2 linked regions of the Homo sapiens genome follow. The protein of the gene in region 2 interacts with the protein of the main gene of each other region in a pairwise test. Each region holds a gene or a part of one and is shown on either strand. Other genes may lie near its edges.

Region 1 (3,655 bases), on a different chromosome or scaffold from region 2:
CACTGTTCCTTTTGCAATCCAGCCATGGTCAGTCTTCCCTTTTTCACACTCGCTGTCTGCCCCTGCACTCACAGGTGGAGCCAGTTCAGAGAACTGGTTGACAGGAAGAAGGATGCCCTCCTGTCTGCCCTGAGCATCCAGAACTACCACCTCGAGTGCAATGAAACCAAATCCTGGATTCGGGAAAAGACCAAGGTCATCGAGTCCACCCAGGACCTGGGCAATGACCTGGCTGGCGTCATGGCCCTGCAGCGCAAGCTGACCGGCATGGAGCGGGACTTGGTGGCCATTGAGGCAAAGCTGAGTGACCTGCAGAAGGAGGCGGAGAAGCTGGAGTCCGAGCACCCCGACCAGGCCCAGGCCATCCTGTCTCGGCTGGCCGAGATCAGCGACGTGTGGGAGGAGATGAAGACCACCCTGAAAAACCGAGAGGCCTCCCTGGGAGAGGCCAGCAAGCTGCAGCAGTTCCTACGGGACTTGGACGACTTCCAGTCCTGGCTCTCTAGGACCCAGACAGCGATCGCCTCGGAGGACATGCCAAACACCCTGACCGAGGCTGAGAAGCTGCTCACGCAGCACGAGAACATCAAGAACGAGATCGACAACTACGAGGAGGACTACCAGAAGATGAGGGACATGGGCGAGATGGTCACCCAGGGGCAGACCGATGCCCAGTACATGTTTCTGCGGCAGCGGCTGCAGGCCCTGGACACTGGATGGAACGAGCTCCACAAGATGTGGGAGAACAGACAAAATCTCCTATCCCAGTCACATGCCTACCAGCAGTTCCTCAGAGACACGAAGCAAGCCGAAGCCTTTCTTAACAACCAGGTAAGGTTTGTTCCTGCCTTTGCTTCCTTTCGGTGAAAGCAGCCCTGGCTGCCTTTTGAAATGTTTTGGCTGGGGCAGCTGGTTTAAACCACACCTGTATGGAATTATATGGATAATTTAGAGACTGATTTTTTTTTCCCCATACTCTTAAGGCATTGAAATCCATCACGTTGTAGGGGACAGGAATTGAAAGTTGCCATAAGAGCTGCTTTGCCTTACAAAGTACTGTTTGATTTCAACTGCCATTGAGGATCTCTTATGTGTTCATAGTATGTCTTCATAATTGAGGTATTGATCCAATTTAAAAGATACAGTGAGGGCCAGGCATGATGACTCACTCCTGTAATCCCAGCTCTTGGGGAGGCTGGGACAGGAGAATCACTTGAGCCCAGCAGGTCAAGGGTGAAGTTAGCCGTGATCGTGCCACTGCACTCCAGCCTGGTGGCAGGGTGAGACCCTGTCTCTTAAAAAAAAAAAAAAAAAAAAAGTACGGTGAGGATTTTTTTTTTTCTTGAGACCAGTCTGTCTTCTTGCTCTAGAAGGGTCAGGGACTTCACCTGAGGACACAAAGTAGAGATTAGAGAAATAAAAACAGCTGAGGATAGTCACCAACTTCAGGGCTGTTACTGTCTCAAAGAGAGAGTATGAAGGGTACATTGCTGTTGCCTTGATAGGCACGTGAGAGGACCCTTGAGGCTGATACACAAAGCTTTGGTTCCTTTCCTCACTCTCTTTGGAAAAAAAAATTTAGAGCATTAACCCCTGAGGGAAATTCGGTCAGTTACAGTGTCCCACTGGGTTTTTTTCCTCCTAACTTTTAATTTGATGTGATTTAATTATTTCATGTAAGTGTAATGAAGAAAGTGTTGTGAACTATGTTGCACGGAAATGTAGAACACAGGAAAATGAGATCCTTCATTGATCTGCTATGATTTGTTCCTCTTTTTAAATAAGGAGTATGTTCTGGCTCACACTGAAATGCCTACCACCTTGGAAGGAGCTGAAGCAGCAATTAAAAAGCAAGAGGACTTCATGACCACCATGGACGCCAATGAGGAGAAGATCAATGCTGTGGTGGAGACTGGCCGGAGGCTGGTGAGCGATGGGAACATCAACTCAGATCGCATCCAGGAGAAGGTGGACTCTATTGATGACAGGTACAGTTTTCTGAGGTTCTTAAGGGAGCCTTGCACCTTGGGGCTCTCAAACTTCTGAATCATTGGCCAGAAGCCCTTGGGAGTTTAGGTATAAATTTCCCAGTGGGCAGAATATGGGTGCCCAGCAGAAGTTCATCTACCCATACAGAAAATTAGTGAGCTGTGCATGACTGCCTGAGAATGTGGGTCTGGTGAGACATGTACAAGTGTCCACAAAAGGAAAGAAAGCCTGAGAAGCCAAGCTAATTCTTAACCGAGGACCTGTAAGAGCCGTAGTGCTGCATCGCGATCAGGTGTAAGCCATGCCCTTTGAGGATTAACACACGCTTGTGTCACCTGATAGGACCCCTGGCGCCAGGTATTCCCAGCCAAGCCCGTGTTCCCCTTCATCCATGAGAAAGAAGCCTGTCAGGAGAGTGGGAAGGGAGGGTGAAGCTTGCTTGTTCTGAGTACCTGGCAAAGCTACAAAGGAACATTACCTGGACTTTTTTAGAAAATTGGCTTGGATAGTGCTGTAATAGGATCTTTTTCATGATGGAGAGGTAAATAAGAGCAAAGGTTATTTTCCTCTTCTGCCAGGGCATCTCCAGGATTGGATACACTTTCTTCATTTCTTGTTTAAAATTATTTTTTTATTTACGTGTGTGTGTGTGTGTGCGTGTGTGTGTCTGTCTGTCTGTCTGAAAGATTTCCTCCCCGGCTGGAGGCCAGTGGACTCTGTTTGACCCTAACTCTTTGACTCACTCCTTACTCTTGCCTTGCCCCGGTTACTTAAGTTGGAGGTTGGGGCAGATCAGGGGTTGGATGCACTAGCACAGGCCAGTCTGGGCCAGCCACTGGATCAATCACTAGCCCCTGTTCCAGTTTGGGTTGAATTTAAGGGCTTGCTGTGAGACTGATGTAATCAAAAAACAAGCCCTTCCTTTCTGCCTCTCTTCTGGCCTTCAAGTGTGTTGGAAAGGAAAAATATTCCTTTGCTTACCACATCTGAGAGGGTTTCCTGGGACCCCTGGTCAGGTTGACTTAAAATAAGATGGGTGGAGAGGGGATTACTCTGTTTCCAATAAAGATTGAGCTCCTGTCTTTACCACTTCCAATCTTTTTTTCTGAGCTGATTCCCAGGCTGAACTATATGTTCTAGGGTGGTATTGTGGAATAGAGAATAACTTATGTTAATTATAATTTTGTATCTGTTGCTTTTAAAACAGCTGCAAAAAAGAAAAATAAATCCACCAAACCCTCCTTAAATGAGCATGAGAAACAGCAATTGGGCAAAGCATTCATAACCTAGGGAAAAAGAATTTCCTTTTTTTGTAATATTAACTCTGAGTATTTTGTAAATAAGATATCCTATGTACTTCCATGTTAGATGCACACAGCTGGTTTCCTGCAGGCGGGCTTGGCTGTTAGGGATGTGTGCATTCAGGCAGGCATGCAGCTGCCTTGCTGCTTCCTCGGTTTCTTTTTATGTCCCCAGTGCTGCAACTGCACAAAGCTGTTGGAAGCAGATGATGCTGTCTAGACTCCTGGATATGATAAAACGTTTCAGCAGCAGCAGCCCTCAGTTGTGGCTTAACCTTCATTTTGCCCTTGACCAAGAGCCTGGGCTACTGGTGTTCCAGAGCTTCCTTAGGATTCCTCAGTTTTAAAAATGAAACGTAAAGATA
Region 2 (3,655 bases):
AGAAAGGTATCACTTTTTGACTAAATTAAAAACTTGCTAAAAATAGTTATCCATTGATGGAATAGGCTACCCCGAAAGGCAGAGAGCATTTTGTCATTGGAAGTATGTAGGGCAGTGTGGATGACTCTAGGGTGACTGTCATGAGGGTTCTGCACTGGGGAGGGGGCTGCGTTGGATGATGAATGGGAACCCTTCCAGTGCTAAGATGCTGTGATCGTTGTCCTGCAGGATTGGGATTGTGCAGGATTTGAGCTACTGTGTAAATTTCCTATTCCCTGCTCATTGGGCTTCCACATTTTGCTTCCTTCCCTTGCCCAGGTGGTTCCATTTCAGGAAGCCTAGATAGCTTCTTTGCAGTCATCTGCCCGAATGTCGTAGCTACTTTAACTCCCCAGAGCTGTACATGTCTAGGATTGATATTGATCATTAACACAATTATGTTCGCCCAGATGAACAAATCTACCAGGAGTAGAAACGTGCATTTGACAGGTGGCCTTGCATGGAGACTAATCGCTTTCACAGGTTGAAAGGTGAAATATCTAAAGTTTAATGAGTAAGTTGTGTCCTGAATGTGGAATCTGAGTTGAAATTGCATTTTGTGACATGTACGCCTACCTAACTTTTCTTTTTCATACCTGTCATCTTTTTTTTTTTTTTTTTGAAACGGAGTCTTGCTCTGTAGCCCAGGCTGGAGTGCAGTGGCGCAGTCTTGGCTCACTGCAACCTCCGCCTCCCAGGTTCAAGCAATTCTTCTGCCTCAGCCTCCCAAGTACCTGGGATTACAGGCATGCCCCACCACGTGCAGCTAATTTTTGTATTTTTAGTAGAGACAGAGTTTCACCATGTCGGCCAGGCTGGTCTTGAGCTCCTAAACTCAAGTGATCCGCCTGCCTCGGCTTCTCAAAGTGCTGGGATTACAGGAGTGAGCCACCGCGCCTGGCCTGTACCTGTCATCTCTTGGTTTGTGAGTGGATTGATTATTGGACTTTATTTTTAACACAGGAGAATGTGCGTGTTTTGCATTTGTAGTGAAAGCATGCCTCATCTTACTCCAACACTGATAGGAAAAGGAAGATTATTTTACAATGGTCAAGTGAAAAAAAAAGTAAATACAGAGATAAAACGGGGTTCTAATATTTCTGCTACACTGGAAACTTAGAGTTGCAAGAGCTGTTTTGGGATCACAAATCTTCTGAAGAAAAAAAGTTTGCGTATTTCAGTACAAGTCTTAATGTTTCCCTAGCGTCTTGTGTTATAGCTGCAGGCCAAGCAAAATGAAATGTGAGACACTGTCCTTGGGGATAGAGCATCTGTATTCAATTTAAACAGTAGATTTGGGGGCCTTAAATTGCCTCGACTCTATTAATCATTTTGTGTTCCTTAGTTTATAGAATTATCTCCTAGAGACATTAACTTATCCATTAATTTCTTCCATTGTGTTTATTTATTCATTCACAAACACTAGCACCTACTGTATACACAGTACAGTGTTGTACATTGCAGGGTACTTAAAAATGTAGAGTGCCAGGCATGGTGGTGCATGCCTATAGTCCCAGCTCCTTGGAAGGCTGGGGCGGGAGGATTGCTTGAGGCCAGGAGTTCAAGGTGGCAGTGCGCTATGCTTGTGCCTACAAATAGCCACTGCACTCCAGCCTGGACAACATAGCAAGACCCTGTCTCAAAAAAAAAATGAAAAAACTCCCCCAAAACCAAAAATGTAGATTGTTCTCAAGGGCCATCCAGTCTAGAGAGAACTAAGGGAGCCTGGTATTCTTAGGCCTTAGAGCTTAACAGCCACACCTAGGATGCCTCTTCAGAAGGTGTTCCAGCCCTTCCTGTGTCTTCCCAGTTCTGATACTGGATTATGTCATTATGTCTCTGTTGAGTAACTCCTTCCAATCAGGCCTGCACACTGCTGCCAGGACAGTCCTCACAAAGCACAGATCTGATTGGGTTATTGTTCCTCTGTGGAAGGGGCTTTCAGAGACTCATTATCTCCCCCCAAGCAAATTCTTAGCATCTCTTTTCAAGCTTTCCATACACTGGCCCTTAAACACTTAAAACGGACACTCTGGCCTTTTTATTATGCACATTATTCTGCCCACCGAGAATATTACAGAATCCGTCTTTCTTGCTCCCAATCTGAACGCATCAAAATGTCATCCCTCATTTACCACCTAGCAAATCAATAATGCTTCTCAGCCTTCCCTGGTTCTCTGGAATCGTCTGCTCTCTCCTTCTTCTGTTATAGTTTGTTATGGATATAACCTGTTTTTCTGACTCCAATGTAGACTTCTTCAACTCAAGGTTTCAGTTCTGGTTTATCTCCTTACTCCCTCATCTATGTAGTACACTTATGGTTTACTCTGTTCTCACTGGATTAGACCAAACTCTTAATTATATTTAGGATGTATTAATCCAATGCATAGATTAACCAAGTCTATTATTTTTATATCTTTTGAAACCAATCAGGAGTTTCAGAAGTTCAGTTCAGTTTAAATATTTATTGAGATGCATACACTATATAGTCAGATACTATGATAGCTCTTGAATATAAAAAATATATATACTTATGTTTGTATATATATGTGTAAATTGATATGTAAATTCAAATAGATAGTGTTGTCTACACCATTGAGAAGCCTATAGTCCCGTGGAAAAAAGAGAATTCATTCTCATGAAGTTTCCGGATATTGTTTCATCAGAAGGACTGGGCACATCGGGGTGTACTAAAATCATTAAGAAGTATTTAGCACCAGTAGATGCCTAATAAATACCTTACAGTCTAGATGGATGGATAGATGGAGGAAGAAAGAAGGGCTCCTTTAATTTATAATTTACCTATTGCTGGGTTTACTCCTAGGTATGACAATTTTGAAAACAATTTACTCAATGTTTATTTCCACACTGTGTATGAAATATGCTGCTCTTCATTCAGAAAGAGATATATAATTCTCCATTTGTAGAACACTGAGTTAATTTCATGGTTGTGATGTTGCTTTTGCTTACTTTCACCCACATTTTCTCCTCTGTAGGGTGGCAGCTCCGTAGGGTGGACACACGCTTTGGGAGACCTGCAGCTGTTTGTGTCTGGGGGCAATGGTGAAGGGCAGTGACTCATTGGCCCAGAACTCATGATCTCATCTCTCACCCAGCTGGCTAATCGGCCTTGGGGACAGGAGGATGAGCGCTGCACTCCCTCCTAATCATGCAGCTTTTGTATGTCTTTCTTTACTTGACTTAAATTGTAATTTGAATGGAAAAATGGACAAATTCTATCATTTGAATTTAACTTTTATATATTTTCTTGACTCTGATTTGGGATTATCTAAGTGCATTTATTCAAATATTTATTGTGTTTTTGAAACTTTTTTTGAAAAGCATAAGGTAATACATGATAAAAGATATTGTTATTACCCCTGTTTCTGCCATTTCAAGGAGTCAGAACAGGCTCAGTGGAAACAAAATGAGATGTCTTATGGGAGTTACTTTCCCTTCAGCTAATCTTGGTATGAATTTATATTGACACTACCTTTAAAATTTTATTCTGCTTTTTAAATTTTACTTTAAGTTCTGGGATACATGTGCAGAACATGCAGGTTTGTTACATAGGTATACATGTGCCATGGTGGTTTGCTGCACCTATCAACTTGTC

What was found. The genes of interacting proteins can lie anywhere in the genome.
Region 1: the proteins of DISC1 (region 2) and SPTBN1 interact in binary tests that used the Homo sapiens proteins (3 or more experiments, as listed by UniProt).

The regions. Positions count from the first base shown.
Region 1 is NC_000002.12:54,630,781-54,634,435, forward strand, and holds part of SPTBN1 (spectrin beta chain, non-erythrocytic 1), read left to right. Parts: intron 1-74; coding exon 75-831; intron 832-1,785; coding exon 1,786-1,988; intron 1,989-3,655. UniProt on the Homo sapiens protein: Fodrin, which seems to be involved in secretion, interacts with calmodulin in a calcium-dependent manner and is thus candidate for the calcium-dependent movement of the cytoskeleton at the membrane.
Region 2 is NC_000001.11:231,633,242-231,636,896, forward strand, and holds part of DISC1 (disrupted in schizophrenia 1 protein), read left to right. Parts: intron 1-3,655. UniProt on the Homo sapiens protein: Involved in the regulation of multiple aspects of embryonic and adult neurogenesis. Required for neural progenitor proliferation in the ventrical/subventrical zone during embryonic brain development and in the adult dentate gyrus of the hippocampus.